2 linked regions of the Homo sapiens genome follow. The protein of the gene in region 1 purifies or fractionates together with the protein of each later gene. This does not show direct contact. Each region holds a gene or a part of one and is shown in the gene's direction. Other genes may lie near its edges.

What was found.
Region 2: the proteins of SPATA46 (region 1) and CEP95 purify together in Homo sapiens (affinity purification with mass spectrometry; 2 studies listed by BioGRID and IntAct, with this or other methods). This does not show direct contact.

Annotation. Positions count from the first base shown.
Region 1 is NC_000001.11:162,373,156-162,378,949, reverse strand, and holds SPATA46 (spermatogenesis-associated protein 46), read left to right. Parts: upstream 1-2,095; 5' UTR 2,096-2,159; coding exon 2,160-2,262; intron 2,263-3,546; coding exon 3,547-3,660; intron 3,661-4,333; coding exon 4,334-4,902; 3' UTR 4,903-5,747; downstream 5,748-5,794. UniProt on the Homo sapiens protein: Plays a role in spermiogenesis and fertilization.
Region 2 is NC_000017.11:64,509,977-64,513,917, forward strand, and holds part of CEP95 (centrosomal protein of 95 kDa), read left to right. Parts: intron 1-196; coding exon 197-304; intron 305-3,941.

The DNA of each region.
Region 1 (5,794 bases):
AGTGTCACCTCCTGCCTGGGCCACCAGCACCAGCATACCTCGGGGGGACACAGCACACAAGACAGGGGACCTGCTACGAGGAGTGGTGTGCACCCTGGAACCGCCAGGCTCCCACAAACTTTTCAGTGACTAAACCAAAACCGGGTCGCATTTTAAAAACTCTACACAGGCACTGAGAGATTCTGCCTCCCATATTTCCCCCCAGTATTTTAAGCTCCCTTTACTTTAAGTCTGAGGTTGCAGTGGGAGAGTCTGAAGTTGGCAGTCGGAGAAATGTGATGGGTCAAGACAGAATGCAATTCCAAGTCCTCGGGGTCCTGTGTGCATCACTCACAAGTATGCTACTGTCCACATGTCAGTCACTGGGTTTTAGCCAGGAAGATGTTCATCCATTCCAGTTTAGAGTCTAAACTAATAACATGGGTAAACCAAGTAGCAGAGAGATTTGCCCAATATCACACAGGTAGCTCATGGCGGAGCAGGGTTAGAAGTCACATAAGCTGATGCCCAGACTCATGAGCTTTCTCTACACCATAATGGACCAAATGAAATTGCTGATACCCCCCAAACTGCCAAAGTATGTGGCTTCAACTTACTTTCCAATACATGCTAATGTTCCAAACCAGGCTATCTGGGAGGAACACGAGGGGAATCATGTTCTCCCATTGTCCTTCGAATGTTTCAGTACCGTGAATAAATACACACAGGAAGACAACTCTGGGCTCTCACGTGCAGAAGCTAACTCACACCTCACTCACACATGCTCGACAGCACTGCAAAACAAGCCCATCACTATTTCCAGAGCGGCCATAGCTCCCCATGCAGCATAAACATACCTGCCATCTAGATCTGCAGCCCTGCTCTGTATCTAGTTGACATGTTGTGATAATCTAGAAAGGGGTGTCTTCAGCTTATCTTCCAAGTGTCACAATCATCTTTCACCTTATTCCACACCTCGTTAGTGCACAAGGTTGTTATAGGACAAGCGAAACGAAGAGGCAACCTTGCCTCTCTGGAGTCCCAGAGTCTCCCCATCAAACTGACTTAAGCAATGAGCAAAATAGTATTGAGTAAGCCACCCATTTGTGCTTTAGTCACTTGCTAAAAAGAGCACCAACCACTGAAAACAATATTTGGCCCCTATTCTTAGGAAATACACATTGAAGTACTTAGGTATAAAAGGACATAGTGTTTATAACTTACCTTCAAATAGTTCACAGAAAAAATTAAGTATATACACATACACATGGGGCAGGGGGCAGGAGGAAGGGGACGGATACAGCAAATGGGGTAAAATGTTAATAGGAAAATCTGGATACAGGGCATAAGGGTGTTCTTTGTATTGATTTTATTTTTTGCAGCTTTTAAGATGGAGTCTCGCTCTGTCACCCAGGCTGCAGTGCAGTGGCGCTATCTCAGCTCACTGCAGCCTCTGTCTCCCAGGTTCAAGCGACTCTCCTGCTTCAGCCTCCCAAGTAGCTGGGATTACAGGCACCCACCACCACGCATGGCTAAATTTTATATTTTGAATAGAGATGGGGTTTCACCATGTTTGTCTAGCTGGTCTTGAACTCCTGACCTCAAATGATCCACCCGCCTTGGCCTCCCAAAGTGCTGGGATTATAGGCCTGAGCCACTGCACCCAGCCTAATTTCTGCAACTTTTACAAATTTGAATTTCCAAAGAAAATGTGAAAAATATATACACCTCAAAAAACAAACTAAAACAAAACAATAAAAATATTTGCTGACAGAGATTAGGCTGATAAAGGAGAAGAAAAGGAAGGAGATTATTCAGACAGGACAGAGGTTTCCAGGGCTGGAGGGCTGGGGGTAGACAGTGTCAACACAGAAAACTGATGATAACAAAGATAAAAGGGGACAAATAGACAGCATCACTACAGTATCTCTACTACATTCTTCTCTCTGGGTATTGTCAATCAGGGCCTGCCACTGGGCAATGGCAAGTCAAATACAATCTTTACACATTTTAATCTTGCTTTCAGTAGACTCCATTCATCTTCCAAAGGGTAACCTAGTTGGTAGTGGAATCATGTGCCTTGTGACATCAACTGTGCTCAGAATGTTTATCCTCTGGACAAACCAGCCAGCCTCTCCAGAGCAGGCGTGTGATCTCTGTACCCCCGCAGTGGTCAGAATATGGAGAACTTCTCACTCCTCAGCATCTCTGGACCTCCAATCTCTTCCTCCGCCCTGAGTGCTTTTCCCGACATTATGTTCTCTCGTGCCACCAGCCTGCCAGGTAAACTTTGGTGCCACTAGGGCCACAAAGATGTGGTTTTTTTTGAAGCTTTTAATTGAGTACCCTACCAGATCATGTTACAGGACCATGATTTAGTGAGAAAGTCAAATTACGCATGGGGAGAAAATAATTTTTCAAAATGCTGCATTTGTGGTAAGTAGTTACTGCTGTGTATTGATTTTTGGTAAGGGAAGAAAGGGGAAAACTTTTTTTTTTTTTTTGAGACAGAGTTTCACTCCTGTCGCTCAGGCTGGAGTGCAATGATGTGATCTCGGCTCACTGCAACCTCTGCCTCCTGGGTTCAAGTGATTCTCCTGCCTCAGTCTCCATTTATCATCAAGTTTTTCCCCCTAGATTGTGCATGAAATCTCAAGGTGGCAGTATGTCTACATAGAGTAGAAACTAGTTTTAGCTCTGTTTTGACAAGTTTGGAGAGGATTTGGAGTTAGCCAAATCAGAGAAGCCTAAGCAGCAGCGTAAACTGATGAGCACATCATGGAATAAAGTTGGACACCCTGAGGACTCCCTGTTCAAAATACGGTCCTTAGACTTGCAACGTCTGCATCGTCTGGGAGCTTGTTAGAAATGCAGAATCTCAGGTTCCCACCCCAGATCCACTGAATCAGCATCTGTGTTATTAACAAGATCCCTAGGGGATCTCTATGCACAGTAAAATGGAGAAGTACTGCTCAGTGGAGTAGGCCTCCTAAGCATCCATTTGTCTACATATATGACATTTATAAATTTGTCCCCCAAACTGAACACAGCTGCTATTCTGGGATTTGAGGCAGGTCAGCTTTTTGTCCAAGTGTTAGCACTCCAGGGTGTGCCGTGCAGTGATGGCCCACGGGAACCCTGACTGTGGGTATGAGATGTTTCAACTGGACAATCCTCAAAGCGGGCATGGAACATTGCTCTGCAGCCTGTGACTCTGGGTCCCAGGATGCTCAGGAGACTGGCAATGCGGAGTGAAGCCATCCGCGTGATGAGATGCAGGAGGGTTAGGTGAGGGGCAGGCCAGGCGGAGAGGTGTCATCTGGGCTACATCATAAATCCCACTTTCCAGAGGATCTTTCTGAGGCCTGAATGAAATGGCCCCATTCAGAATTCCCCAGGATGTCATCCAGAATAGCTCTGCCTGGCTGAGTTTGAGAGGTCACTGTTCTGTTTCAGCGTTGAGATGCCTTGAAGTACAGAGGTTGAGCCCCTAGGTATGCCTGGGGGAGTCCCAGAAAGTGGAATCCCAACCTTGCTCAGCTCACCAGTGTTTCTTCTATAACCCAGACATTGCAAAGACAGCAGTACCCACTGAGGCATCCAGCCCAGCTCAGGCCCTGCCACCCCAGTACCAAAGCATCATTGTCAGGCAAGGGATACAGAACACAGCGCTCTCACCAGGTGAGGACTTCTCTGACTCTGGGCGGGAATGTGTGAGAGGCTAAGGATGAAAAGGGGCTGCTTCCCTAAGGAAGCAGAGGTGTCTGGAAGCTGGACCCCCATGCGCGGTCTTGTCACCTGCAGCCTCCTATCTGGCCCTTCTTCCTTTGGTAGACACCCACAGGCCTGGGGCTCTCGCCTTGCCTCCCCTCTCCTGTCTCTGAAACTGGTGTGCAAGAGCAGTTTCTGGCTGAGTGGGCCGTGGAGGGATCAAGATGAGCAGTGAGGCTGAAAAAAGGGTCACAGCCATGGGTGGCGAAAAGAGGGACTGTGGGAGGCCGCCGGTTTGGCTATCCGCTGGGTCACCTGTCTGTGTCTATCCTTAGAGGAGTCAGTGGACATGGTGTCTCCAGGAGGGGAAGGCCTCGACAAATACCAAGGCTTACCAACTAAAAGCAGCCTCTCCTGCCCCAAGATCCAACGGCCCTTTGTACCCCTAGAAAAAGAATGCAGTGAGAAGGAATGCCCTCGGCTGCTCTTACCACTGTCTTGCGTCTGCTCTCAGAACTGCAATCGTGGTGGGGTGGAGGTAACCGAGGTCATGCCTGATGTTTGCCTTCTTACCTTTCTGCTCCAGCATCCTTGGCTCCACTGCTCCCTGCCAGAGACTCAGACCTGGTCCTTTCCTTTGCAGACTGCAGCTTGGGGGATACCCAGCACGGAGAGAAGCTGAGGCGGAACTGCACTATCTACCGGCCCTGGTTCTCCCCCTACAGCTACTTCGTGTGTGCAGACAAAGAGAGCCAGCTGGAGGCCTATGACTTCCCAGAGGTGCAGCAGGATGAGGGCAAGTGGGACAACTGCCTTTCTGAGGACATGGCTGAGAACATCTGTTCGTCCTCTTCCTCCCCAGAGAACACTTGCCCTCGAGAAGCCACCAAGAAATCCAGGCATGGCCTGGACTCCATCACATCCCAGGACATCCTAATGGCTTCCAGGTGGCACCCAGCACAGCAGAATGGCTACAAGTGCGTGGCCTGCTGCCGCATGTACCCCACCCTGGACTTCCTCAAGAGCCACATCAAGAGGGGCTTCAGGGAGGGCTTCAGCTGCAAGGTGTACTACCGCAAGCTCAAAGCCCTCTGGAGCAAGGAGCAGAAGGCCCGGCTGGGAGACAGGCTCTCCTCCGGCAGCTGCCAGGCCTTCAATAGTCCTGCTGAACACCTTAGGCAAATTGGCGGTGAAGCCTACTTATGTCTCTAGAGAGATGCCAATAAAGTTAGTCACAGCCTTCTGTCCAGTCTGAGGTCACCCCGCACAGCCTGCTGTCCTTCCCAGAACCCGGCTCTCATCACCTTTGGCTAATGGTTGCCTAGCAACACCAGGCACACACCCTCCCCTTTCTCTCTTTTAAAAATAAAGACAATACTTGAAGTTTGGGAAAATCATCTAAGATAGAGGTTCTCAAAGGTGCCCAGCTGGCAGTACCAGCAACCCCTGGGAACTCTCAGGCCCTCCTCAGACCTACTGAATCAGAAACTATGGGTCTGGGGCTGGCGGTCTATGTCCTAACCAGCCCTCCAGGTGACTCTGATGCAGCTCAGCTGTGAGAAGCACTGCTCTAGGATTCTGGCCTCTGCTTGGTCCCTATGTGGTCAGTCCTTGCCCCACCCTGGGAAGAAGGGGCTGGATGCCCTTTCCTATTTGCATGGGGAAGAATCTCTGCAGTTTTAAAGGCTTCTTTGACGGTAGATCTTCTGAGGGGGGAATGTGGAGGAAAATATGCCTCTGAGTATAAGGCAGGTAAGAGGCAGATGGGGCTGAGCTCACCCGGGACTGAGCTCTCAGGCACTACCATCATTCACTTAGAACAGCCATCCAGTGCTGGGGCAGAATAGAATCAGTTTTGACCCAGGAGACGTCTTTTCTTGGCTGCTTTGAGCCAGGTGAAAATAGGCAGGTAAACATGGGAACCTATTGCTTCCTGTTACCAAGTAATGTGTCCAGTGGGCAGCCCTGACTCTGCCTCCATTTCTGAGTGAACCTCCTGGTCCATCTGACCCAGAAAGATGGATAAGCATCAGGGATGCAGCAGAGACATCTATCTTGACTGTAATGTGGTTTTTAAAAAGCACCAAATGCTTGCTGGTCATCC
Region 2 (3,941 bases), on another chromosome or scaffold:
TCAATAAATACTCAACCAGTAAAGATTCTGCTGTGTAGAGTTCAGGGTTTATTAACTTTATCTGTACTTTACAGCATGTTCTGTTTGGGCAGAGCCTTTATAGCAGTTGAGCATATTCAGTAGCCTAGTCAGAGACAATGAGATGAAAACTTGGCCTCTCATGGATACAAAATTATGTGATTTTTTCCCCCCCCAGACCTCATAGTTATTCCTAGGAGTCAAGAAGATGATGCACACAATGTACAAGCAGTAATTGATTCACTGGCCTTGGACTACTTGCAGGTCAGCTTGTCTCACATAACAGGTTGGTATATGTATAACTATCACATAATTATGCATTTTAGTAAAAATAATTGTTAGAACTGTAGACATTGTTTACTTAACCAAATGAGTGAGCTTATGGAGTAGACCAAATTGTAAGATTGAGCTAAGACAATCAACTGATAGAGGTCAGGTCCATACATGAGAACTTTTCCAGGAGAGCTGAACATTGATTTTGCAATTGATCTGGGTCTGAAACGTAAATATCCTAGCTGGTAATTTGAGGTGTGTTTTTTGTTTTTATGTTATGTTGTTTTATTTATTTTTATTTTTTGATTCAGAGTCTCTGTTGCCCAGGCTGGAGTGCAGTGGTGCAATCACAGCTCACTGCAGCCTCAACCTCCCAAGCTCAGGTGATCCTCTCACCTCAGCCTCCCGGGTAGCCGGGGCTACAGGTGTGCACCACCATGCCTGGCTAATTTTTTCTATTTTTTGTAAAGACAAGAGTTTCGCCATTTGCCCAGGCTGGTCTGGAACTCCTGGGCTCAGCTGATCCACCTGGCTCCACTCGTGAAATTGCTGGGATTACAGGCCTGGACCACTGTGCCTGGCCTTCGGGGAACCTGCCCCGATAGTCACGTAGGTTCTTTTCTATTTTATCTAAGCATCGGCAGGTTTGAGAAATAAAGGGACAGAGTACAAAAGAGAGAAATTTTAAAGCTGGGCGTCTGGGGGAGACATCACATGTCTGTAGGTTCCGTGATGCCCCACAAGCTGCAAAAACCAGCAAGTTTTTATTAGGGATTTTCAAAAGGGGAGGGAGTATACGAATAGGTTGTGGGTCACAGACATCAAGTACTTCACAAGGTAATAGAATATCACAAGGCAAATGGAGGCAGGGCGAGATCACAGGACCACCTGACTGGGGTGAAATTAAAATTGCTAATGAAGTTTTGGGCACCATTGTCATTGATAACATCTTATCAGGAGACAGGGTTTTGAGAGCAACCTGTCTGACCAAAATTTATTAGGCGGGAATTTCTTCTTCCTAATAAGCCTGGGAGCGATATGGGAGACTGAGGTCTATTTCAGCCCTACAGTCTACAGACCATAAAAGATGGCCACGCCCGGGGGACCGTCTGTAGACCTGCCCCCAGGCGTGTATTCTCTTTCCCAGGGATGTTCCTTGCTGAGAAAAAGAATTCAGCGATATTTCTCCCATTTGCTTTTGAAAGAAAAGAAATATGGCTCTGTTCCGCCCGGCTCACCAACGGACAGAGTTTAAGGTTATCTGTCTTATTCCCTGAACAATTGCTGTTATCCTGTTCTTTTTTTCAAGGTGCCCAGATTTCATATTGTTCAAACACACATGCTCTACAATTTTGTGCAGTTAACGCAATTATCACGTGGTCCTGAGGCTACATACATCCTCCTCGGTTTACAAGATGACAGGATTAAGAGATTAAAGTGAAGACAGGCCTAGGAAATCACAAGGGTATTGATTGGGGAAGTGATAAGTGTCCATGAAATCTTTACAATTCATGTTCAGAGATTGCAGTAAAGACAGGCATAAGAAGTTATAAAAGTATTAATTTGGGGAACTAATAAATGTCCATGAAATCTTCACAATCCACGTTCTTCTGCCATGGCTTCAGCCGGTCCCTCTGTTTGGGGTCCCTGACTTCTCGCAACACCTGGCCGTATTGTTTTATTTTAAAGCATACTAATGCTACTTGTTTGTGATAGCTAAAAATTAGAAACACCTAAATGTCCATTAGTAGGGATTGGTTAGATAAATCATGATAGCTGCATACAGTGGACTGCTCTGTGGCTGTAAAAGATGACTGAATATGCTCTTTGTGCACAATGTTCCGTGTTGGGAACAATCTCTAGCATATGTGATGCGAGAAAAATGTAGTACAATTATAATGGTAATGTGCAGAGTAGTATGCTAGTGTTTGTAAAAACAAAGGTGTGCAGAAGTATTTGCAGTTGTTTGCAATCGGAAGAACTCTCTAGAAGCATATACAAGAAACTCGTAATACTGATTGCTTCCAACAAAGGGAACCTCAGGGTTGCAGGACAAAGGGACAAGAACTTTCAGTGTATACTTTTTGCACTTGCTGAATTTTGAACCATGTTATCTATTCAGAAGTTTTTTTCTGTAATTAAATCTCCAAAATAAAGTATACTATACTGTATTCTAAAACTAAGCATACCAAATATATTTATAAATCACTGTATTATGTGTATTTCATTTATGTTTAGAAATGAATGATTATTCCAGTAAGTTATTTCAAGCTTATGAATAGAGGGAATATTGACAATGTGAAACTATAATCACAAAAAGAGGATTTATACTGTTGATTTATTCTTTGATAGTTGTAAAAGGAGATAAATGTTAATCAGGATAAGTCCTGATTTACATCTCTTAATTTGATACTGACAAGAACAAATTTTTGCGAAGAGAATAAAATACTCTTCTGTCTTAAGTTTTTTAATGCAGTTCTAGGTGAGTGAATGGGTAAATCAGTTCGGAGATAATTTGAGGGCTACTCCCATAGTTTCCCTCTTTTTTTTGCAATTTGTAATTGCTTTATCACCCAAGTAGGACAAGTTCTGGTATTTGTGCTTGTTAAACATACTATAGCAGGGTTATAAACATACATGTTTGTAAAACTCTTTAATGCAGAGCTGTCTTTGACAGATTACACCCACCCTATGAAAAATTGTAAAACAGTTTCTCCTGCAGCATGAAGCACTGCATTCTGGCTGGCAGTCTTAGTTGCTAGGTTGTCAGTATACTCCCCATCCTAGAAACTGAAAAGTTTTGAGGATGCTCTTGGGATATACTTAGGTATTTTTAAGCCGGAAAAACACGTCCAAAACCAAGATTTCTGGTTCATTGTTTTAAACGAAAAAACTCAAACGTTGTCGTTACTAGTAGTAGTATAAAACGTCAAATTTCTGGTTTAGGTTTGTTTTGCATCATGGCTGAGGTTACGAATGGCTAGATTCTCCCAAATGTCAAATTTCTACACTGCTTTTCCCATATTGGTGTGAACTCATGAGAATGCCAGGCATGATCTCCCAAAGGACAATCAGAGTGTCACAAGGGTTAAGTACTATCTATACCTGAGGTTGATTTGGAGTCCATTTCAGGTGACATTAAATATGTCAAGTTTCCATGCTTTTTGCCAACCCATTTCTATTCAACATTTCAACCTAATCATTTATATTAAAAATCTGTTACGGAGTAGGTACTGTGCTAGGGACTGTGCTATGATCTATGAGTGTAAGTTATGAATATGAAGTGGATATGGTAAGAGATGTAGCTGGAGACGCTGAAGATGGAGTGAGATTTAAAAAGGTTTTATATGCAGGGCTTATATTTCAGAAAGGGAGCCAGGGAAAGGATTTTAATCAGAAAAATGGTATGATCTATACAAAATGAGGAGTTAACAAATATGGGGGGTTATGGTGGAGAATTCAGGAATTTCTGATGAAAGTATCCCAACAAGTTTATTGTTTTTTTTTGTTGTTTTGATGTTACTCTGCTGCTATAATCTTCTGAACAAACCACCATTTAGAATAGGATACCACAATCTGAAAGTGTTCTCTCCTGCCACTTTTTCCCACCAATCTGGTAAAGTTCTGTTTAGCTGCAATATATTTTGGTA